Linked DNA regions of Homo sapiens. The protein of the gene in region 2 purifies or fractionates together with the protein of the main gene of each other region. This does not show direct contact. Each region holds a gene or a part of one and is shown on either strand. Other genes may lie near its edges. The genes, in order: SLC25A13, KDF1, FBLL1, DHX30, ZNF664, XRN1 and DHX40.

Evidence for each region.
Region 1: the proteins of KDF1 (region 2) and SLC25A13 purify together in Homo sapiens (affinity purification with mass spectrometry, with the first as the bait; one large-scale study listed by BioGRID). This does not show direct contact.
Region 3: the proteins of KDF1 (region 2) and FBLL1 purify together in Homo sapiens (affinity purification with mass spectrometry, with the first as the bait; one large-scale study listed by BioGRID). This does not show direct contact.
Region 4: the proteins of KDF1 (region 2) and DHX30 purify together in Homo sapiens (affinity purification with mass spectrometry, with the first as the bait; one large-scale study listed by BioGRID). This does not show direct contact.
Region 5: the proteins of KDF1 (region 2) and ZNF664 purify together in Homo sapiens (affinity purification with mass spectrometry, with the first as the bait; one large-scale study listed by BioGRID). This does not show direct contact.
Region 6: the proteins of KDF1 (region 2) and XRN1 purify together in Homo sapiens (affinity purification with mass spectrometry, with the first as the bait; one large-scale study listed by BioGRID). This does not show direct contact.
Region 7: the proteins of KDF1 (region 2) and DHX40 purify together in Homo sapiens (affinity purification with mass spectrometry, with the first as the bait; one large-scale study listed by BioGRID). This does not show direct contact.

The regions. Positions count from the first base shown.
Region 1 is NC_000007.14:96,315,599-96,319,098, reverse strand, and holds part of SLC25A13 (electrogenic aspartate/glutamate antiporter SLC25A13, mitochondrial), read left to right. Parts: intron 1-3,500. UniProt on the Homo sapiens protein: Mitochondrial electrogenic aspartate/glutamate antiporter that favors efflux of aspartate and entry of glutamate and proton within the mitochondria as part of the malate-aspartate shuttle.
Region 2 is NC_000001.11:26,950,469-26,953,968, reverse strand, and holds part of KDF1 (keratinocyte differentiation factor 1), read left to right. Parts: intron 1-15; exon of another isoform or gene 16-123; intron 124-1,556; 5' UTR 1,557-1,588; coding exon 1,589-2,627; intron 2,628-3,212; coding exon 3,213-3,287; intron 3,288-3,500. UniProt on the Homo sapiens protein: Plays a role in the regulation of the epidermis formation during early development. Required both as an inhibitor of basal cell proliferation and a promoter of differentiation of basal progenitor cell progeny.
Region 3 is NC_000005.10:168,527,843-168,531,134, forward strand, and holds FBLL1 (RNA 2'-O-methyltransferase FBLL1), read left to right. Parts: upstream 1-1,462; 5' UTR 1,463-1,662; coding exon 1,663-2,667; 3' UTR 2,668-2,792; downstream 2,793-3,292.
Region 4 is NC_000003.12:47,841,138-47,844,637, forward strand, and holds part of DHX30 (ATP-dependent RNA helicase DHX30), read left to right. Parts: coding exon 1-41; intron 42-479; coding exon 480-600; intron 601-1,968; coding exon 1,969-2,118; intron 2,119-3,500.
Region 5 is NC_000012.12:124,011,215-124,013,570, reverse strand, and holds part of ZNF664 (zinc finger protein 664), read right to left. Parts: intron 2,191-2,356; 5' UTR 2,130-2,190; intron 2,026-2,129; 5' UTR 1,427-2,025; coding exon 641-1,426; 3' UTR 1-640. UniProt on the Homo sapiens protein: May be involved in transcriptional regulation.
Region 6 is NC_000003.12:142,420,538-142,424,037, reverse strand, and holds part of XRN1 (5'-3' exoribonuclease 1), read left to right. Parts: intron 1-395; coding exon 396-478; intron 479-1,115; coding exon 1,116-1,203; intron 1,204-1,287; coding exon 1,288-1,456; intron 1,457-2,494; coding exon 2,495-2,562; intron 2,563-2,884; coding exon 2,885-3,022; intron 3,023-3,500. UniProt on the Homo sapiens protein: Major 5'-3' exoribonuclease involved in mRNA decay. Required for the 5'-3'-processing of the G4 tetraplex-containing DNA and RNA substrates. The kinetic of hydrolysis is faster for G4 RNA tetraplex than for G4 DNA tetraplex and monomeric RNA tetraplex.
Region 7 is NC_000017.11:59,568,610-59,572,109, reverse strand, and holds part of DHX40 (probable ATP-dependent RNA helicase DHX40), read right to left. Parts: intron 1,593-3,500; coding exon 1,447-1,592; intron 1-1,446. UniProt on the Homo sapiens protein: Probable ATP-dependent RNA helicase.

The DNA.
Region 1 (3,500 bases), on a different chromosome or scaffold from region 2:
CTAACTTATTCCAAGAATGTCCCTTATTGAACTGCCTTTGGGCATCACCTTTATCGGTTGATTCTGTTGGCAGCCTGAGTTAAAGGCTGTGCTCCTTGCTTTTTCCCTGGAGCATAGCTATTCCATGTTGCCAGCTGAACACAGAGCCATAGGGGTAGGGTTGGCATTCCCTCTTAAAAGTTGAGGAGCCTGGATAGGAGAGGACTTCACCTCAATGGACTGTTAGGAAATTGGGCTGAGACTCTGGGGACTCAGCAACTGTGAGAATTCCAACACTCACTACACTCACTGTGACAAATTGTTTGAATATTTAAGCAGATTTGGTATTTTCTGGATAGATGTAGCCACAACTAGCAATTAGTTTTCTGATCTGTTTCTTTCTTTGGTCTTTATACTTATTTAAATACAGCTAATTATTCATGACCTTCCTTTAAATAGTTTTAATGGGGAGATGGAGAATCTAGTCTTTGGCTGCTTTTTATTTTGAATTTTGCTATGAAGATTACTAGTTAATGGTTCAAGAAGTGTTTGTTTTCTTTCGTGAATGAACATTAATCTAAAACTCTTAGTATTCTGAGATTATCTCAAAAAGTGTCCATTCTCTTGCTGCCTACGTTTGTAGGAATAATCCTTGTGGGTTCCCTTGTTAGATCTGCCTGTACTGTTTGCGTTGTTTGAATATTTCTTTTAAACATTTCCCAAAACTGCCATAAAAAAACAGTTTTAAAAGGTGGTAATTGAGAGGTCACCCTTTTCTTCGTCTCTGCCCTTTTCTTGGTTAAAGGAGAGCTTTCTTCTTCGTCATTGGTTAAATTTATGCGTTACGAATGATGTAATTAACCTATATGAACCTACTAAAAGTTAGAATATGCTCCCTTGAGTTCAGACCTGTGAGATGTTCTGGGGTAAAACTGAACACAGACCAATATTAGCCTAGAACCAAAAGAAGGAAATTTGGGGGCACATTAAAGCATTAATAATAAAGACAATTTGGTCTGTAGGACTAGTACACTTTGTATTGACTTTTCATTCTTGGATGAGTTGTTGCTGTGATCATTGATTCATTTATGTGTATTGTGTTCTTTCCAGTGTTGCAAATGGGACAAAATTGAGAATACTAAAATGAATTGTTAGCTGGGCATGGTGGCACGCATCTGTGGTCCCGGCTACTTGGGAGGCTAAGGCAGGAGGATCACTTGAGCCCAGAAGGCAGAGGTTGCAGTGAGCTGAGATAGCACCACTGTACTCCAGCTTGGGTTACAGAACGAGATCCTGTCTCAAAAAAAAATAAAATAAAGTAAAATAAAATAATAAAATAAAATAAAATAGAATAAAATAAATAAAATGAATTGGACTCCATTTTGATGTTCAAGAAAACCAAAACCATTCCAGGGGGCTAAGTTCTCTGATGGAAATGCTCCCACTACAAGGTTTGTGGGAGCAGTAGGAGAAGAGCCCATTTCTGAGGAGATGAGGGAAGTCTTCTGAAAATTGCTAGTATTTCAGAAGGAATGGATGGGGAAGAGTAAAGATCCAATCCAGTGGTTGGAAACAAATGAAGGGCTGGGAGGTGAGAGCACAGGCTACATTTAGTTAACAGCAGGTAATAAAAACTAAAAGCAGCTGACACTTACTGAGCGCTTACTAGATACCAAATTCAGTTCCAAATGTGTTTCATTGTTGATTCATTTAAAATTCAGTTCCAACTGTGTTTCGTTGTTGATTCATTTAATGCCTCAGCCTTTTGAGTTAGTTACTATCATCCTTTTTTTATAGATGAAGGCTCTGAGATACCAAGAGGTGATGTTAGTGGCCTAAGATCTGATAAGTATGGCTGGGTACGGTGGCTCACACCTATAATCCCAGCACCTTGGGAGGCCGAGGCAGGTGAATCACCTCAGGTCAGGAATTTGAGACCAGCCTGGCCAGTCTGGCCCATCTCTACTAAAAATAGGAAACAATTAGCCGGGCATAGTGGTGCATTCTTGTAATCTCAGCTGCTCGGGAGGCTGAGGTAGGGGAATTTGCTTCAACCTGGGAGGCGGAGGTTGCAGTGAGCTGACGTCGTGCCATTGCACTCCAGCCTGGGTGACAGAGCAAGACTCTGTCTCAAAAAAATAAAATAAAATAAAAAAGATCGGATAATTAGGAAATTATCGAGCTGGGGTTCAAATCCTGCCAGTCTGGCTCCAGCAGCTGTGGCCTCACTCTGTCCACCATGTGTGCCTGGTAGTTTAGTGTGGTGGAGAATAAAGTATATGGGAGAGGTGTGGGAGATGACTTAGGAGAGGGGTAGGTGTCTCAGTGTAAACCAGACTTTTATTTGAGAACTGCCTTACCTAGTGCTTTTTGCATGCCAGGTACTTTTCCAAGAGCCTTACAAATAGTAACTCAATTAATTTTCTTAATTCTAAGAAGTAGGTGCTTTCTGTTTTTGACTTCAACTTACAGGTGAGAAAACTGAGTTAGGGGAGGTTAAGTAATTTCTCACGCTTGTGCAACAGGTAAGTGCTACAGTCTTGATTTGAACCTTGCCAATGTGTCTTCAGAGTCTCTGCTCTTAACCTCTGCGCTGCTCTCCCAGGTCTTACCAAGAGTTCCATTTGCGAAGGTGTATGTGTGAGAGTTCACATGCCATCGGGTATGGATGTGTATATTTCCTGATCATCCCAGTCCAGTAGTTCTTATCTTAGAACACCTTTGTCACTCTGTATATGCTTCATTTCAGTGTTTATTAAGTGTATTTCTCATCTCTCCAACCAGATCGCAAATCCCTGCAGGACAGGAATTGTCATATACCTTTTATTTAATTGCTTTATTGAGATATAATTCAAGTACTATACAATTTACCCATTTAAAGCATATGATTTATTGGTTTTCAATATATGCACAGAGTTGTGTAACTGTCACCACTGTCATATACCTTTAATCCAGTTTCCATTAGGATTTGGACTATAATATATATATATATATTTGGGACAGGGTCTCACTCTCTCACCCAGGTGGAAGTGCAGTGGTGTGATTATTGCTCACTCTAGCCTAGACCTCGTGGATACAAGAGATCCTCCCACCGCAGCCTCCTGAATAGCTAGGACCTCAGGCACACACCACCACACCCAGCTAATTAAAATTTTTTTTTTTTTTGTAGAGACGGGGGTCTTGCTATGTCGCCCAGGCTTTGGGCTGTATATTTAACCTCCATGTCTTCCACATTGTTCACCCATCATAAAACCCTCTTCAGAGGTTTGTCATTGAGGATAAAATATATTGAGGTTATTAAAGATATTCTTCAAATGGCAGGGTTTTTTCTCCCCTATGTAAAAACTCTACTAAGTATTTGGTGATATCATAATAAAACAAATCAGTTTTTGTGCTAGGAATGGAGGAAAGAAGGTTTGAGTTGTTTTTATGCTACCATGATGATGATTATTAAAACAAATATCTATGGCTCCACTGTTTGGGTTTTAGGGGTTCTTATCTTGTTGGAGCTGGATGGCCTT
Region 2 (3,500 bases):
TTTTTTTTTTTTTTGAGACAGGGTCTGGCTTTGTTGCCCAGGCTGGAGTGCAATGGCACGATCTCAGCTCACTGCAACCTCCACCTCCAAGGCTCAAGTGGTCCTCCCACCTCAGTCCCCCAGGTAACTAGGACTACAGGTGTGCACCACCACGCCCAGCTAATTTTTGTATTTTCAGTAGGGATGGGCTTTCACCATGTTGGCCAGGCTGGTCTTGAACTCCTGCGCTCAAGTGATCCACCCATCCCAGCCTCCCAAATTGCTGGGATCACAGGCATGAGCCACCGCACCCGGGCTATTTGTCCTTTTGTGTCTGGCTTATTTCACTTAGCATAAGTTCTTCAAGGTTCATCCATGTTGCAGCATGTATAAGAATTTCCTTTCCTTTTTAAGGCTGAGTAATATTCCATTGTATGTATATACCACATTTTGTTTAGTCATTCATCCATTGGTAGACACTGGGATTGTTTCCACCTTTTGGCTATTGTGAATAATGCTGCTGTGAACATTGTCTAAACATCTGAGTCCCTGCTCTCAATTAGATTGGGTATGTACCCAGAAGTGGAATTGCTGGGTCGTGTGGTAATTCGATGTTTAATTTTTGGAGGAACCACCGTACTGTTTTCCATAGCAGCTGCACCATTTTACATTCCCACCAGAAATGCACAAGGGTTCCAGTTTTTCCACATTATTGCCAACACTCATTATTTTCTGGGAGAAGGGAGATTATTTTTAAATACAGATTGAGAGATTGAGTATCCCTAATCCAAAAATCCAAAACACTCCAAAATCTGAAAGTTGAGCACCAGCATGATACTTAAAGGAATGCTCATTGGAGCATTTCAGATTTTTGGATGAGGAATGCTTAACAGGTAAGTATAATGTATACAATCCACAATTCAGAATCCAAAACATTTCTGGACCCAAGCATTTCAGATAAGATGTTCAACCTTTCTTTTTTTCTTTTTCTTTCTTTTTTTTTTTTGAGACACAGTCTCGCCCTGTTGCCCAGGCTGGAGTGCAATGGCGTGATCTTGGCTCACTGCAACCTCTGCCACCCGGGTTCAAGCGATTCTCCTGCCTCAGCCTCCCAAGTAGCTGGGATTACAGGCACCCACCACTATACCTGGCTAATTTTTTTTGTATTTTTAGTAGAGACGGAGTTTCACCATGTTAGTCAGGTTGGTCTCGAACTCCTGACCTCAGGTGATCTGCCTGCCTCGGCCTCCCAAAGTGCTGGGATTACAGGCGTGAGCCACCACGCCCGGCCAATGTTCAACCTTTCATAGCCATCCCAATAGGTCTAAGTCACAGGGAATTTTGAAATCTGGGTTAGACCACAGAGACTTTCTCTTTGTGGAGGGAGGGCCACAAGAGATAAGGGTTTTTGGGCATACTTGGGTCCATCCACATCCCAGGCAAGGGTTTTTGGGCATACTTGGGTCCATCCACATCCCAGGCCTCTCAGAAACTAGAAATGTGAAGCTGCTCAAGTCAGCCCAGGAGTTTGTCCCTCACCTCTGATCCTGACTCCTTCCTGGCCTCTCCCCACGCAGGTGCCTGGCTGCTACAAACCATGCAATGAGCCATGCCCCGCCCTGGACACCCCCGCCCAGCATCTGGGCCTCCACGCTTGGGACCGTGGGAGCGGCCAACAGAGCTATGTCTGGAGACATATGATAAACCACCTCAGCCCCCACCAAGCCGCCGCACCCGTAGACCAGACCCCAAGGACCCTGGCCACCATGGGCCAGAGAGCATTACCTTCATCTCTGGCTCTGCTGAGCCGGCCCTTGAGTCCCCCACCTGCTGCCTGCTCTGGCGACCCTGGGTGTGGGAGTGGTGCCGGGCTGCCTTCTGCTTCCGCCGCTGCCGGGATTGCCTCCAGCGCTGTGGAGCCTGTGTGCGGGGATGCAGCCCCTGCCTGTCTACTGAGGACTCCACTGAGGGGACTGCTGAAGCCAACTGGGCCAAGGAGCACAATGGAGTGCCCCCCAGCCCTGATCGTGCACCCCCCAGCCGGCGGGATGGCCAGCGGCTCAAGTCAACCATGGGCAGCAGCTTCAGCTACCCCGATGTTAAGCTCAAAGGCATCCCTGTGTATCCCTACCCGAGGGCCACCTCCCCAGCCCCTGATGCGGACTCCTGCTGCAAGGAGCCACTGGCCGATCCCCCACCCATGCGACACAGCCTGCCCAGCACCTTTGCCAGTAGTCCTCGTGGCTCCGAGGAGTACTATTCTTTCCATGAGTCGGACCTGGACCTGCCGGAGATGGGCAGTGGCTCCATGTCGAGCCGAGAAATTGATGTGCTCATCTTCAAGAAGCTGACAGAGCTGTTCAGCGTACACCAGATCGATGAGCTGGCCAAGTGCACATCAGACACTGTGTTCCTGGAGAAGACCAGTAAGATCTCGGACCTTATCAGCAGCATCACGCAGGACTACCACCTGGATGAGCAGGATGCTGAGGGCCGCCTGGTACGCGGCATCATTCGCATTAGTACCCGAAAGAGCCGTGCTCGCCCACAGACCTCGGAGGGTCGTTCAACTCGGGCTGCTGCCCCAACCGCTGCTGCCCCTGACAGTGGCCATGAGACCATGGTGGGCTCAGGTCTCAGCCAGGATGGTAGGTGGGGGCCCCATGGGGCTGAGGGGCAGAGTAGGGGAGGCTCTGGCCAGGGGAGGGTTGGAATGGGGTCTTTAGTCACTGTGGGTCTACCCCTCAGCCAGTCCCTGCCTTTCCTCCTCCTTTCTGTCAACTCTTGCATCCCCTCTCCCCAGCTCCCACTCTGGCCCTTCCTGGTGAGGTCCGAGCAAGGCTGAGAGAAGCATGCAGACCCTGGGAGAGCTCTCTGGCCATCGCTGCTGTCCCCAGAAAGGTCAAGGTTCCCTCTGCATTCAACAAGTTTACCCAAAAGGCTCCTCTCCTCTGCTGTCTCCTGCCAGAGTAGCTTCTAGGCCTGGTCTGGTGAACAGGACCTAGGGACCCACATGAATTTGGGCCTCTGACCTGTTCTGGGCTAACCAAAACTCCCACTCATCCATCACTCTGCGCATGCACACGTTGTCTATGTCTCTGTCTTTAAGCATTATTTTTCTAGCCCTGCCCAGGAGTGAGTGGCTCCTCCCTCATCGGGCTGGGAACAGAAGTAGGAAATAGGGTTGAAAGAACGTGCTAATGACCACTGCTTGCCTCACGTTCCCTCCCTAGAGCTGACAGTGCAGATCTCCCAGGAGACGACTGCAGATGCCATCGCCCGGAAGCTGAGGCCTTATGGAGCTCCAGGTGTGGTCTTGACCTAATGAGGGGTGTGGAGGGTGGGGGACTACCCTAGGGGCCCCTCACCTGCTGCTCTCCCAGCTTTCTTTTGGGGTGATGAGGATGACATCAAAAAGGGACGGGGACCTAAGCAGCCACAGACCTGTCTCCATCTAGCAAGCTGGCTTAAAGTGGGTGCAGGTGCCCAGAACAGGCAAGCTGAAAGTGATCAGACCCCAA
Region 3 (3,292 bases), on a different chromosome or scaffold from region 2:
CTCTATTATTCAAGGTTCTCCAAAGACACAGGCCTGTAGGATATATATATGTGTGTATATATAGGATATATATTGGCTCATGTGATTGTGGAGACCAGCAGGTCCAAAATCCGCAGGGCCAATGTCCCAGTCCAAAGGTTGTCAGGCAGAAAGAGCTGATGTGCCAGTTGAAAGGCCCTTGGGCAGGAGAATTCTCTCTTCCGTGGGGAAGGTCAGCATTTTGCTTTATTTCTGCCTTCAACTGATTAGATGAGGCCCAGCCACATCGTAGACGGCAATCAGCTTTACTCAATATACCAATTTAAATGTTAATCTCATCAAAAAACACCCTCACAGAAACACTCAGAATACTATTTGACCAAATATCTGGGCATCCCATGGCCCAGTAAAGTTGACACATAAAATTAACCCTCACAGACACCAAGTGTAGTTCATCATTTTGGAAAATATTCACCTTATAGCAAGAATGGAAACCTCTAAGTAGAGTATTTTATGTGAACCATTCAACCTCAGGAATCATACATTTCACTCACTGATCCCTTGTTCACATTCCAGTGTATAAAACTCTGGTCCCCATTAAGGAGACACTCCAGTCCTCAGGGAAAATCAGACCTGGCACTGTCGTCCATGAGTATGAGACGGGAAGAGCTGTGGTCCAGGATGGAACGGAAGTCATACTGCACATACCAGGTGTTCAGTAAATGCTCCGATCTTCAGGTGCGCGTTGTCTCTCTCTCTCTCTCTCTCGAGTAGACACTTAATTCAACTAACGGGAGGCTGGCCAGTTGTTTCACCACCTATCCTACTTTCCCCAGCTCTTGTGTGGTTCCCAAAGCCCCTAGCAGTAGCCAAAACGGGGGCCCCAACTGCTGTCGCTGTCCCTGGTGCTGACTAAACCCTAAAGCCTCTGCGTTGCGGCCTTGGGGCCATTGGTGGTGCCGAGTTATTCTTTTATTTTCTTTCTGTTCTTTTCTTTTTTTCTTTTCTTCTCGTTGCTGCCCTTGGTGCTGCCCAATTATTCTTTTCTTTTCTTCTCCTCTCCCTCTCTCTCTTTTCTTTCTCTCTCTTTCTTTCTTTTTCTCTTTTTCTTTCTTTCCTCAAGAAAATGCTGCAGATTTAGAGAGTGACTTTGAAGCATAGACTAGACTTCGAGGATGAACATGACATTTTGGCTCTCTGTGTATCCCCATTCACACTGAAGAATCAACAACACTTCCTTGCTGATCAATAGTCCCAGAACTGGTGGCACAGCCAGGACCGACGCTGATGCTTACCTCCCCCTCTCCTGCAGCAGAGACGCCCCCGTCCCTGTGGCCCAGGGAAGTGCCAGGGATCCCTGGGAAGGCGGGAGATGGGGAAGGGGCAGGGTGAGCGAAGAGGAGCAGGCTGCGTCTGCACGCGGGCTGGGAAGCGGGGCTTCCGGGCCGCAGGGTCGCGGGGACGGGTGTGATGCAATCGCGCCACAGCCGCTGCGTCAAGGGGCGGCTCCGGGATGCGGGCACTGCGGTAGAGCCCGTCCTGCCCCCGCCGCCCGCCGCCCGCCGCCCGCCTCCGCTGCTAAACCCGCGGACAACCGCCGGGACGACCACCCAGAGCCACCAGAGCCCCCTGACACCCGCCCCGAGGCACCGGTAACCCACGGCACCCGCCCCGGTGCGTGCCATGAAGTCGGCCGCGAGCTCGCGCGGGGGCGGTGGGGGCGGCCGCGGGGGCGGCGGCTGGGGCAGCTGGGGCGGGGGCCGAGGCGGCGGCGGCGGCGCGGGCAAGGGCGGCGGGGGCGACGGCGGCGGCCAGGGGGGCAAGGGCGGCTTCGGGGCGCGGGCGCGCGGCTTCGGCGGGGGCGGCCGGGGCCGGGGGCGCGGCGGCGGCGACGGCAAGGATCGCGGCGGCGGTGGACAGCGGCGGGGCGGCGTGGCCAAGAGCAAGAGCCGCCGCAGGAAGGGCGCCATGGTGGTGTCGGTGGAGCCGCACCGGCACGAGGGCGTCTTCATCTACCGCGGGGCGGAGGACGCGCTGGTCACGCTGAACATGGTGCCGGGCCAGTCTGTGTACGGCGAGAGGCGCGTCACGGTGACCGAGGGCGGCGTGAAGCAGGAGTACCGCACGTGGAACCCGTTCCGCTCTAAGCTGGCCGCGGCCATCCTGGGCGGGGTGGACCAGATCCACATCAAGCCCAAGTCCAAGGTGCTGTACCTGGGCGCCGCGTCGGGCACCACCGTCTCCCATGTCTCCGACATCATTGGCCCAGACGGCCTGGTCTACGCCGTCGAGTTCTCCCACCGCGCCGGCCGCGATCTGGTCAACGTGGCCAAGAAGCGCACCAACATCATTCCGGTCCTGGAGGACGCGCGGCACCCGCTCAAGTACCGCATGCTCATCGGGATGGTGGACGTGATCTTCGCCGACGTGGCCCAGCCGGACCAGTCCCGCATCGTGGCCCTGAACGCCCACACCTTCCTGCGCAATGGGGGCCACTTTCTCATCTCCATCAAGGCCAACTGCATCGACTCCACCGCATCCGCCGAGGCTGTGTTTGCTTCTGAGGTGAGGAAGTTGCAGCAGGAGAACTTGAAGCCTCAAGAGCAGCTGACCCTGGAGCCCTATGAGCGGGACCACGCTGTGGTGGTCGGGGTCTACCGACCTCTTCCCAAGAGCAGCAGCAAATAGCACCCAGCTCAGGCTCGCCTGCCATCTCCCCAAGGCTGCGTTGTGTTTGCTATTATTTTCTGTGTGTTTTCTTTGTGAGTGTTTTGTTTTGTTGTTTTTCTATTAAACTGCATAAAGAAACGGCACCTATCTGTATGGTGATGCCAGGCTAGGTTTTGCTGCAGTAACAATCAACCCCCAAATCCCAGTGGCCTAAACCGGCTGGTATAAGGGGCCCATCCAGCAGTAGCCTGGGAGCTGTGCTCATTCTAATCACTCAGGTCTCCAACTCCCCAGGGCCCCATTTTCACACATGCTCCCCCCATCCCTAGGGCAGAGGAAAGAGAGCTGCGGAATTGCTAATAAAAGCTTTTAAATGTCCCCTTGGAACTGATGGGGCACTTCTGCTCACATTTGGCCAAGTCACATGACCCAGCCTGACTCGGGAAAAACACTGAATGTTGGTGGACAATAATATAGTCAAACACACCAATCATCTGACTCACAGCCAAAGTCTTAACCACAATAGGTTTTTAGTATTTTACTCTTCAACTAAGCCCTTTTGCATTCACTGTTAAAGTGAATAATAAATAAATGTTAAATTTATTCCTCACACCAGCCCTGAGATGGCTTTGTTAGCACTTGC
Region 4 (3,500 bases), on a different chromosome or scaffold from region 2:
ATGACCCAGCAGGATTCCCACGCTCCACTCAGGGACTCAAGGTACAGATGGAGGATGGGGATGCAGCAGAGGCTGGCTGTGCCTTGACACGGGGATGGGCGAATGTTCTCTGCTAGCTTTCTCTGAGATGGGAGCGCCCCTGCCTCACATTTCAGCCTGTGTGCCCCATCACTCAGTGTGTGTCTGCCCATTCTTGGGGGACAGCCAGCTGTGGTCTTCTATGTGGCTGGGCTTTTGCAGAACAGCAGCATGGAGCCCCTGCTCTCTGCTATCTTATCTGTGTGAGGGAATGGAGGGAGCAGTCCCCATGCAGTGTGGCTGTGGGAGGAGCAGAGACGCCCGGTTTCCCATCCATTTCATGCCTTCTGCCCTTCTGGCTCCCTGCTGCAGCGCAGCGTCCTCACCCCTACATCGCAGAGCCTCAGGGAAATTGGTCCAGGAAGAGAGAATTCTTTCAGTTAAACTTTTGGTCCTCCCAGGGGGAGTTCCTTTGAGATGACAGATGACGACAGTGCCATTAGGGCTCTGACCCAGTTTCCACTTCCCAAGAACCTTCTGGCCAAGGTGATTCAGATTGCAACGTCATCCTCCACAGCTAAGGTGAGTTGGGTCTCCTAGAAGTTTGTGTGGGGGCCGTTTACTTGGTCATGTCTGGTGTTCCCTAAAGGCAGGTTTAGAGAGGGCTGAGGGGGTGTGTTCCTCCAGCCCAAACCTAGGCCAGGTGGAGGAACTCCTGCTTGGGAGGAAAAGCAGCAGGTGTGATGGAATGGAGGTCAAGCCTCAGCAGCACAGGGAGTGGGCTTGGGGGCCGCAAGAGCAGAAGACCCATACCTCTTCTGGGCGGTGGATTGTCAGTGGGGAAGGGTTAGAGGTGTGGGTCTTGGTGAGGTATGAATTTCTCTCTTGCTGCCAGGCGAAGGGGCTTTGGTCATGAAATGCCTAACCTTGTTTTTACTTTAACTCGTTGCTTTGAATTTTGTCCTGCTTGTCTCTTTAATCACCTAGCCTTGCTTCTCATGTAAAATAAGACTCTCTCTAGCTAAGAAAGCCGTACAAACCCCAATTGACCCCTTAATTTACAAGACACTAAGGGCTCCTCACCCAACCCCCTTTCGTAAGGAGTTGGCCTGGGTAAACAGATCCTCAGCATTTCAAAGGAGCCTAATTAACTGATAAGGTACGAACACCAACAATATATGAAGTTCCCAGGAATTTTCTCCAAGAGATAACAACATAAAACCTTGAGTTCGTGTCTGGCGTAGACCCTATATCTAATTATAATGAAAGATTTAGAATCTTGCACCTGGTACTGTTGCTCTTCTTGTAACCATTTGTCTTTTAAGTTGTTTATCACTCTGTAACCATTTTGATTCTTTTGATTCTTGCATGTTTTTACTTCTGTAGAATTATTACATTTAAGTCCCCCTCCCCTTCCTAAACCTAAGTATAAAAGTTAATCGAGCCCCTTCCTCGTGGCCGAAAGAATTTTGAGCATTAGCTGTCTCTTTGGCCGCCGGCTTAATAAAGGACTCTTAATTCGTCTCAAAGTGTGGCGTTTCCTTAACTCGCCTAAGTACAACAGTTAAGCAGAGCTTCTGTCCAGGTGCAGGGTCTTTTTGCTCCCGCAGGATGTGCCTGGTTTTTAGCTCATGCTGACAGCTTCAACCCACAGCTGCCACGATGTTGCCGAGATGACAGTGGGCTAGGAGGGCAGGTGATGGCATTGCCCAAGCACTGTCTTCTGCAGTGGAAGTCGAGGTATAGCAGGAGAAGCGAGCCTGGGACTAGGGTGCCTGAGCCCATGGGCCTGCTCCTGGCTATGCAGCAGCACCTCTAGCATGGCTCACGCCTGGCACCTGCTGAGATGGTGGCTCATTCTGTCTCTGGGCTCCTTGGCATTCTGAGAATGCCCCAAGTCTCTTCCCATTCCCTACATTTCTGTAACCATCTCTCTTGCCTTCCATGTAGAACCTCATGCAGTTCCATACTGTGGGCACCAAGACCAAGCTGTCTACACTCACCCTGCTCTGGCCCTGCCCCATGACCTTTGTTGCCAAAGGGCGCCGCAAAGCAGAGGCTGAGAATAAGGCGGCAGCCTTGGCCTGCAAGAAACTGAAGGTGAGTCCAGGAAGGTCCTGGGTGTGGTGCATGAGAATGTCTTGAAGCTCCCCTCTGCCAGTGGCAAATGGGTCCCATTTTCTAGGAAATGAAACCACCACAGCAGGCCTTTTGCCTGGCACAAAGACAGCTGGTATGCAGGCCTCGCTTGTAGGCCCTGTGGCTGTTGCCATGGCTTTTCCAGAGGCCCTGTGGAGATACTTTGCCCGTGACCCAGCATTTTCCACACTGTTGGCCTGAACCTGGTGAGGCCGGGAGGAAACTTGCTCATTGTTCTGAATAGTATAAAGCCGGGAGGAGCCGGGCCTGTTTTGAGAGGCAGACCTGGTGTCCAGTATGATCCTGATAACCCGGGTTTTGTGGGCAGAATGAATAATGTGACTTGTGACTGCAGTGATGATTGAGGAAGCAGTCAGGATCAAGGTAGAGACAGTGTGGCAGACAGCTGGCAGTTCTCTTTTTTTTGAGACAGGGTCTCTGTGGCCCAGGCTGGAGTATAGTGGCACGATCATGGCTCACTGCAGCCTCGATCTCCTAGGCTTAAGCGATCCTTTCACCTCAGCCTCCTGCATAGCTGGGACCATAGGTATGCACCACCACTCCCAGCTTATTTTTAAACATTTTTTGTAGAGACAAGGGTCTCACTGTGTTGCGAAGACTGGTCTTAAAATCTTGGGCTCAATCAGTCTTTCTACCTTCACTTCCTAAAGTGTTGGGATTGCAGGCGTGAGCCACCGCTCCTGGCCATGGCCGTTCTCTTGAAAGGGGCTGGTGGAGTTAGCTGATGGCACAGTAGTGGGAGGGAGTTGGGATTGTCTCTGACTGCCTGAGGAGTTAGTAATCTCAACCCATGTTGGTGGAGGTTTAGTTTGCAGACCAAGATAGAAATGGGCCTGCTTTACTCTGAATGGTCAGGTGCACCATTTCATGGGTACAGTTGGCTCTGGGAACCATGTTTTAGTTACAGCTGATGGTGAGAGGTAACAAGAACCTGGAGAAAGACGAGGAAGAGGGGACAGGCAATTGGTGAGATAAAGAGGGCACAGATATGCTACCTGTGACTCGAGGGCAGAACAAGGACTGAGTAGAACTGGAGGCATCTGAGCTTTGGCCTGATGCACACGCACTGTGAGCAGAAGCACCTTGGCATGGTAGGGGCCTGTCTGGGAAGGAGCAAGCTTTGCAGTGGCTGGAGGGCCATTTGTCAGTGAGGCTGGTGGGTAAAACCCATGAAGTCTGGGGAGAGGGCAGAAGCCTGTTCCTGCAGCAAGGAGCTTGTGTTGGCACCTCCTGTGGTATGAGGACCAGATTCCTGTCCTTTAGGTCCTTATAGCTGATGGTGCCAGCACGCCCAGAGGCAGGGGGTTGGCCCCTGTTGGGGG
Region 5 (2,356 bases), on a different chromosome or scaffold from region 2:
TGCCAATGACTTTTCTGATAGGCTAAGTGAATGGGAATTATGAGTCACCTAAAATCTAAAATGAAAGTTAATGCCATCTAGGAAGGGATGGATATTTATGGGGATTTTGAGGACATATATTCAGAAATAATAGGATATATGGAAAGATATGTAGGGGCTAAATCAAGTGTTAACCTCAGAAATACCAGAACGTGATCTTAGTGGGAGCTGTCTGTTTTCCAATGCATTGCCAGTATGCTCGAATAAAGAGGAAGGAAGGGCATGAGCTCCTCAAGGGGGAGTATCTGGGATAGCTTTTAAGCAAAGTATAGATAGAAGGTGACTCAGGAGGCCGGGCAATGATTGTGGCTTTTTGTGTAGTCTTTCAACTATGGAGGCATCGTGCTGGAATCCCAGGAAGCGACGTCTGTGACTGGGACCTGAGAGCCATCCTGCGTGGATGCTCAGAGGTCCACATTCAAAGTCAACCTGTGGAACACACTTGGCATGAACCAACAAATCAATCTCACATATGCCTCCTCAGAAACAATGTTCTGCTAGGGATTGCGTAAATATTTCTTGGGTCAATGTAGGTATATACAGGGTTTCCTTCCTAGTGGCACTTATGGGTTTTAAGATTTTAAACTCTTAGCAAAACGTTTTATATAACTGATATTTTGAGATGGTTTCTCTCCTTTGTGTGGACTCTCTGGTGGATGCAGAGGCTCGTACTCTGACTGAAGGCCTTTCCGCACTCATCACATTTGAAAGGTTTCTCTCCTGTGTGGACTCTCTGGTGGATGCACAGGCTCGAACTCTGACTGAAGGCCTTCCCACATCCACAACATCTATAGGGTTTCTCTCCAGTGTGGACTCTCTGGTGGATGCAGAGGCTCGAACTCTGACTGAACGCCTTCCCACACTCATAACATTTATAGGGTTTCTCTCCTGTGTGGACTCTTTGATGCATGCAGAGGCTGGAGGTGTGCCTGAAGGCCTTCCCACACTCTTCACATTTAAAGGGCTTCTCTCCGGTGTGGACTCTCTGATGCATGCAAAGGTTTGAACTATTACTAAAGCCCCTTCCACACTCACTACAGACATACGGTTTCTCACCTGTATGAACTCTCATATGAATTTGAAGATGGGAGCTCCAATTGAAGGCTTTGCCACACTCGTAACATTTATAGGGCTTCTCCACTGTGTGGATTTTCTTATGTCTATTAAGTTTTGTTGTAGTGCTAAAATCCTTACCACAATCATCACATTTATAGACCTTCTCTCCTGTATGGTCTCTCCAATGAATATGAAGTTCTGATATATGAAAGAAACCCTTATCACACTTGTCACATTTATGGGGCTTCTCAGCTGTGTGAATTTTCTGATGCATAAAAAGATCTGCTCTCTCAGAGAAAAATTCCCTACACATGGGGCACTTGTAGATCATTTTTCCTATTTGGTATCGTGATTTCAAGGAGAAAATTTCCTTATGATTACTACAGTTACAAGACTGTTATTTCATAGAGTCTCTTATTTGGCCATTTTGGCAGTCTATCTCAGGCTTGCTCTATTAGGTAAGTTTAAGGTCAGCCTAAGCTTTTCCCTGCCTGTCTTTCTACGGAAGGTTTCTTCCTGCATAGTGTTCCTCACTCAGTATTATTATCGATTATAAAGTGACATTGACTTCCACGTGAATTCTGTAACTCATTAACACAGAACTTTGTTTTAGATCCTGAGTTGTCAACATTCCAAGGGGCTCTCAAAGTGCAAACCTTTGCGTTTTTGAGCCCCTGGAATCTTCCTCTTGTAGAGTAATCTTGTATGTCTCACTTCTAGAAAAAGGACTGTACAGTATATCCCCTGTATCGAAGGATGAGATACTGCTGGCTGGTCTCGAGCCCCTGCAGTTGCCCCTTGAAGAGTCAGTTTGGCATTCTGCCTCCTGCACATCAGACAGGAAAGCCTTTCCAGCAAGCAGGCTCCTCGGGGTCCAGGTATGGCAAGCCCTGCTTTGGGGAATTCCCTACATGGGTATCATGCCGTCTCCTGTAATAGAAACATAAATAAATAAATTGAAAATGCTTTTATCTGGAAAACTGCTATTGATTCCAAAATTAATTTTATATAAATGTGACAGCAGTAACACAAACCTTTTTTGGTCTTGAAGAAGCTCTCTTATCTTCCAAAGATGTGTCTCTTGGATTTGCAGGTCTGAAGGAGAGAATTTGTAGATATCATGCTCCTGTTTACAGCTCAAGTATATAATCCAATTACAATAACTCATTGTAATTATCTGAGCAACATCAAGGGGAACATTATTGAAAGAGAAAAGAAATCCTCAAAAAGACCTACATGTGAGTATGAAAACCAGCTGTCC
Region 6 (3,500 bases), on a different chromosome or scaffold from region 2:
ACTGGGGCTATCCTGGTCTCCAAAAGAGTCCTGCATTCTTTGGTCATAGAAAAGCTGCTGCCTCTAATTTCTAACCAGTTCCCCCACGGCAAGTAGAAATATGTGAAAACCAAGAGAAGATGTTTGGGATTTGGAGGGATAGGAAGAGGAGAGGGGACAGGGGATAGGGTAATGGTTATGAAAAGCATGTGAGCTAAGGTGAACATATTTTTCTTAGAAAAGTACACTTTATCTCATTCATTACCTACAAATAGATCATATTTTGTTATTTGTATATTTAATGTGCTAATTGTTTCTTATTCTTCCTTGTATAGAATTGTTTTTTAATTGCTTTTGTGAACCTAATATTATTAAAAATGGGAGAATAAAAACATTTCTTAATCATTTTTCAACAGATTATGCTTGGATTAACAAGTCATGAGGCACATTTTTCTCTCTTAAGAGAAGAAGTTCGATTTGGTGGCAAAAAAACACAACGGTAAATTATATAGCATATATGTTGGAAGAAAGAAATTACGCCTGGATAGTAATTCTTTAACAGATACATGTTTGTAAATACTTTATCTCATTCCGTAGGTTGCCTTTTCACTATGTTGATAGTGTCCTTTGATGCACAAACGTTTTTAATTTTGTTATAATCCAACTCATTTATTCTTCTTTTTTTAGGAGTTTTCAAGTTTTAACTTTTATGGTTAGATCTTTGATTCATTTTGAGTTAATTTTAGTGTGTAGTGTAAGGTAAGGGCCCAACTTCATTCTTTTGCATGTGGATATCCAATCTTCCTTGCATTATTTGTTGAAAAGACCAGCCTTAAATGGGCCAGATCTCAGTAGTTTCTTACTTCTACTATATGTTATTTAGGACTTCTTAATTCTGAGAATCCTTCCACAGAACACATAATGTAAACCAATTGTTTTGAACTTTAACATGTATTATCTATTATTGCAATTGTATTTTTATCTTTGTTACCCTGCAACCTTCATATAAATTGTATGCCTTAATTACAAGACCTTACTATCTTCTGATGATACTTTTGATTTAAGCTTTGTTACATTTTTAAGCTGGGACCTTAAAAATAAAATTCACTGTATCTTGATCATCTGACTAATTCCAGGGTATGTGCTCCAGAAGAAACTACATTTCACCTTCTACACTTGTCTTTAATGAGAGAGTATATTGACTATGAGTTTTCAGTATTAAAAGTAAGTATTAATAAAGCCATGGACCAAGGATTTCCATTGCAGAAATTTTCACTGGATTTGACTTTGTTCTCTATTTTACTGTAGGAAAAGATCACATTTAAATATGATATTGAAAGGATAATAGATGATTGGATTTTGATGGGGTTTCTTGTTGGTAATGATTTTATCCCTCATCTACCTCATTTACATATTAATCATGATGCACTGCCTCTTCTTTATGGAACATATGTTACCATCCTGCCAGAACTTGGGGGTAAGAAGAATTTAATAATCTCTCGAGGATACTTTAATTTAGTGCCACCTTACCCTAAAAATGTGACTTAGTTTAGTAGATTATTGCATGCACGCTAAAGCAGAAAAACATTGAGGATTTATTTTGGTCTAAGGTGCTAACCTCTGAGGTTGTCATTTTCAGTGATTCACAAGGAAAGAAAGTGAACAGAGTTAACGAACCTCAATTATTGATATCTAACTAATCTTTGCCTTTTTTTTATTATTTATTTATTTTTTGAGACGGGGTCTTGCTCTGTTGCCCAGGCTGGAGTGCAGTGGCGACAGTGCAACGTTTGCCTTCTGGATTCAAGCTATGCCCATGCCTCTGCCTCCTGAGTAGCTGGGATTACAGGCATGTGTCACCATGCCCAGCTAAGTTCTATATTTTTAGTGGAGATGGGGTTTTACCATATTGACCAGGCTGGTCTCAAACTTCGGCCTCAAGTGATCTGGCTTCCCAAAGTGCTGGGATTACAGGCATGAGCCACCACACCCGGTCTAATCTTTGCCTTTAATTCCTTAAGAAAGCCAGCATACTTTATTGGTTTTACTTTTTTCATATTTAAGCATAGAAATTCAATTTTTTTCGAATGGATATGCATCACAGTGTTTATTATGAAGCAGTGATTTTTCAATGAAAACAGAAAATTGACAAACATAGTGATGCCAAATAAAACAGACCACAGGGTAGCAGAACATCAGTCCTTAAGTTAACATATCATATTAAATGATCTAGATAGATTATAGACCATATTTAATTTAATTAATTGTTACCAAATGTTGGATTATTATGTGGAACCTGGAATTTCTTATATTTGGCTTTGGTGCTTACATGTTGCATATTATAGTAGCATAAAATTCACAGAAACTAGGGCCAGTTTGGATATAGTCCAACACTGTTTTTTCTTGATTAGTACTGTAGAACATGAACATTCAACATTTTGTAGAAAGAGTTTTGTAGAATTGTTTAGAAAAAATGTCAGCTTTTAGTACAGATTTAAATTTTTGTTTCTTTTAGGTTATATTAATGAAAGTGGGCACCTCAACTTACCTCGATTTGAGAAATACCTTGTGAAACTATCAGATGTAAGTAACTAGAAATTTTTGGTTTCCTGTCGCAGAGTAGCTGTAAATGATCAGTCACCAATTATGTAATACCAGAAGAAAGGGGTTTTATAATTCTATTCCAATTGCTTATTCAATATAAACACTTTTACCTAAATTAATTTTATTTTTATTTGCTTTCTATTTGTATTTTTAGAGTAACACATGAGGTCTCCCATATATATAAAAGAGTAACATTCTCCAATTTCCTATACCCCAGTAGTAGTCACTGTTTTAAGTTTGATTTGTATTCTTCTAGATATACTTAAATTATTTAAAAATAAATTTAAATATTTCTGTACAGTTTGATCGGGAGCACTTCAGTGAAGTTTTTGTGGACCTAAAATGGTTTGAAAGCAAAGTTGGTAACAAGTACCTCAATGAAGCAGCAGGTGTCGCAGCAGAAGAAGCCAGGAACTACAAGGAAAAGAAAAAGTTAAAGGTGTCTATTTTTTTAGGTGTCCTTTCATTGTTTTAACTGTAAAGGCAAAAATTATATTCTTTGTTTCTCATTTTCCTTCTTATGATTTGGGATTGCCTCGTTTTATTTCTCTTCCTCTCTATAGGCATTTCAGAAATTGATTTGGTTTCTTTTTTTCTATTAGCTTCTGTCATTTAATGAGATCTTCAATAATCAGTTCCTTATTTTTACTGTTGAAGAGGTACATTGTGTTTTATGTTAATAAATGTGGAAAACATTTCTAAACATAAAAGCCCAGAAAATGAATTATTTTCTGGGCTTTTTAAAAAAATTACTTAAAACATGTTATTAAAAACAATTATTTAAGGCCAGGTGCAGTGGCTCACACCTGTAATCCCAGCACTTTGGGAGGCAAAATGGGTGGATTACCTGAGGTCAGGAGTTTGAGACCAGCCTGGCCAACGTGGCGAAACCCCATCTCTACTAAAAAAACAGAAAT
Region 7 (3,500 bases), on a different chromosome or scaffold from region 2:
AATTTGTTGGTGCCATGAATATAGAAGATGCTTTAACACTTGCTGATTTTGTTAATTGGCTGATTTTGTTAATTCAGCTTTCCATTGACTTCAAGAATACAAACACATAAAATAAATCAACCTGAAAACATGCTCAGTGAAATAAGAGTGACACGAAGTACAAAATATTGTGTGATTCCACTTGAATGAGGTACCCGGAGTAGGCAAATTTGTAGAGACAGAAAGTAGAACAGAAGATACAGCAGGGCGCGGTGGTTTACCCTGTAATCCCAGCACTTTGGGAGGCCGAGGTGGGCAGATCACAAGGTCAGGAATTTGAGACCAACCCCATCTCTACTAAAAATACAAAAAATTAGCTGGGCGTGGTGGCAGGAGCCTGTAAACCCAGCTACTTGGGAGGCTGAGGCAGGAGAATCACTAGAACCTGGGAGGCAGAGGTTGCAGGGAGTGGAGGTTGCGCCACTGCACTCCAGCCCGGGCAATGGTGTGAGACTTCGTCTCAAAAAAAAAAAAGAAGTTACCAGAGGCTAGGGGGAGGGAGAAATGGGGGTTTTAATCTATAAGAGTTTCTGTTTGGGATGATAAAAAAAGTTCTGAAAGTAGAAATGGTGATGGTTACCCAACATTGTGAACACATTTTTTTTTTTTTTTTGAGGTGGAGTTTTGCTCTTGTTGCCCAGGCTGGAGTGCAGTGGCGCGATCTCAGCTCACCGCAACCTCCGCCTCCCGGGTTCAAGCCATTTTCCTGCCTCAGCCTCCTGAGTAGCTGGGATTACAGGCATGCACCACCGTGCCCAGCTAATTTTGTATTTTTAAAAGAGACAGGGTTTCTCCATGTTGGTCAGGCTGGTCTCGAACTCCTGACCTCAGGTGATCCACCCGCCTCGGCCTCCCAAAGTGATGGGATTACAGACGTGAGCCATCGAGCCCAGCCCATTGTGAACATACTTAATGGCACTGAATTGTATACCAAAATAGTAAAATGGTCGATTTTAAGTTATATATATTTTACTACAATAAAACATTTTAAAAACCTACATGTCAAGAATCCTTACAGTTAAAAAACATAAATAAGAGAATCCTAAGAAAATAAACTGTCATTTATAAACTAAGGAAGGAGAAAATGGGATGAACATCAGACACTTGAGAGCTAAAGCATTAACAATGAACAACAAAAATAAATTCTTTAAAATATATATTGAACTTTGAAGTTAAAAATCTTTCAGAACTCTCTCCACTCTTTCTGTTAAGTTTATAACATTAGCTGGGCATGGTGGCATGCTCCTGTAGTCCCAGCTACCCAAGGGGCTGAGGTAGGAGATCACTTGAGCCCAGAAGGTAGAGGCTACAGAGAGCCATGATTGCGCCACGCACTCCAGGCTGGGCGACAGAGCAAGACCCTGTCCCATAAAAGAAAAGAAACAAATACCAACAAGACTTTTGTACCTTAGAACTGCAATCATCAAAACGAACTTGGTATCCTACTTTGGATCCCAAAGTGCATTTCATTTCTTCAGCTACTCTCTGAGCAACTGATATAGCAGCTACTTTTCGTGGTTGAGTTACACCAATCATACCATGTTGTGAAAACCCTATCAAAACCAGAGATAAAGAAACACAACAATGTTAGCAATTGTCTTCCTATTAGAGCTAAATTGTTTTTGGCCAATCAACACAAAACTGCTTGAATGTTTCCAAAAGAATATCTCGCAAATTAAAAACACACTGCTATGTTTGCATCATGGAAATTTAAATATTAATTTAAAATAATACATATTAATAACCATGCAAAAATATATTATATATATAATATATAAATATATATAATATAAATCCAGTTTATATTATATATATTTATATATTATATATATTATATACTAATATATATTTAATATATAATATATATTATAATATATTATATATTATATATATTAATATATAACATATTATATGTATTATATAATTTATAATATATTATATATAAATATACATTATAATATATTATAATATATACTATATATTATATATAAATATACATTATAATATAATGTATATTATATATATTTAGACAGAGTTTTGCTCTTGTTGCCTAGGCTGTAGTGCAATGGCGCAATCTCGGCTCACCGCAACCTCTGCGTCCCAGGTTCAAGCAACTCTCCTGCCTCAGCCTCCCGAGTAGCTGGGATAACAGGCATGTGCCACCATGCCGGGCTAATTTTGTATTTTAGCAGAGACGGGTTTTTTCCCTGTTGGTCAGGCTGGTCTTGTACTCCCAACCTCAGGTGATCCACTTGCCTCTGCCTCCCAAAGTACTGGGATTATAGGCTTGAGACACCACGCCCAGCCAAAACAAAAAAAAAGAAAGAAAAAATTATATATATATCTATATATATATATAGATATATATATATTTTTTTCTTTTTTGAGACGGAGTATTGCTCTGTTGCCCAGGCTGGAATGCAGTGGCGCGATCTCGGCTCACTGCAACTTTCACTTCCTGGGTTCAAGCGATTCTCCTGCCTCAGCCACCTGAGCAGCTGGGATTACAGGCGCTTGCCACCAGGCCCAGCTAATTTTTTTGTAAAAAATATATTTTTTAAATTAGAATTCAGGCTTTGTCTGTTTTTTTCTGTCTAAAAATCTACTCTAAAGGTAAGCCAAGAATTTTGAAACATAAGAATTCATAAAATTCCACACACTTCCCAAAATAAATTTACTTTTGCCACAAGAGTAAAACTGGATTTATTTATTTATTTATTTATTTATTTATTTATTTATTTTTGAGATAGAGTCTTGCTCTGTTGCCCAGGCGGGAGTGCAGTGGCACAATCTCGGCTCACTGCAACCTCTACCTCCTGGGTTCAAGCAATTCTCCTGCCTCAGCCGCCTGAGTAACTGGGATTACAGGTGCGCGCCACCACACCCAGCTAATTTTGTATTTTTAGTAGAGATGGGGTTTCACCATGTTGGCCAGGCTGGTCGCAAACTTCTGACCTCAAGTGATCCATCTGCCTCAGCCTCCCAATGTGCTGGGATCACAGGCATGAGCCACTGCACCCAGCCTAAAACTGGACTTAAATATGCCACCTTTCTGCTGGGAGCAGTGGTACACACCTGTAATCCCAGCTACTCAGGAGCCTGGCTACTCAGAAGGTTGAGGTAGGAGGATTGCTTGAACTCAGGAGTTTGAGATCAGCCTGGGCGACATAGTAAGATCTCATCTCAAAAAAATAAATAAATATATATATCTATATTTATATATATATATATATGCACCTTCCATATACCATTTTAATATATTTGGGAATGGAGCTGCATCTTAAAATCGATGGCGCATTTCCATTCTTACTAATACAGTAGTCCCTCTTTACCTTTGGTTTTGCTTTCCAATTTTTCAGTTACCTACAGTCAGTGGAGGTCCAAAAATGTTACAGTACTTTGAGAGACAGAGAGAGACCACATTTACAAAAGTTTTACTACAGTATATTGTCATAACTGCT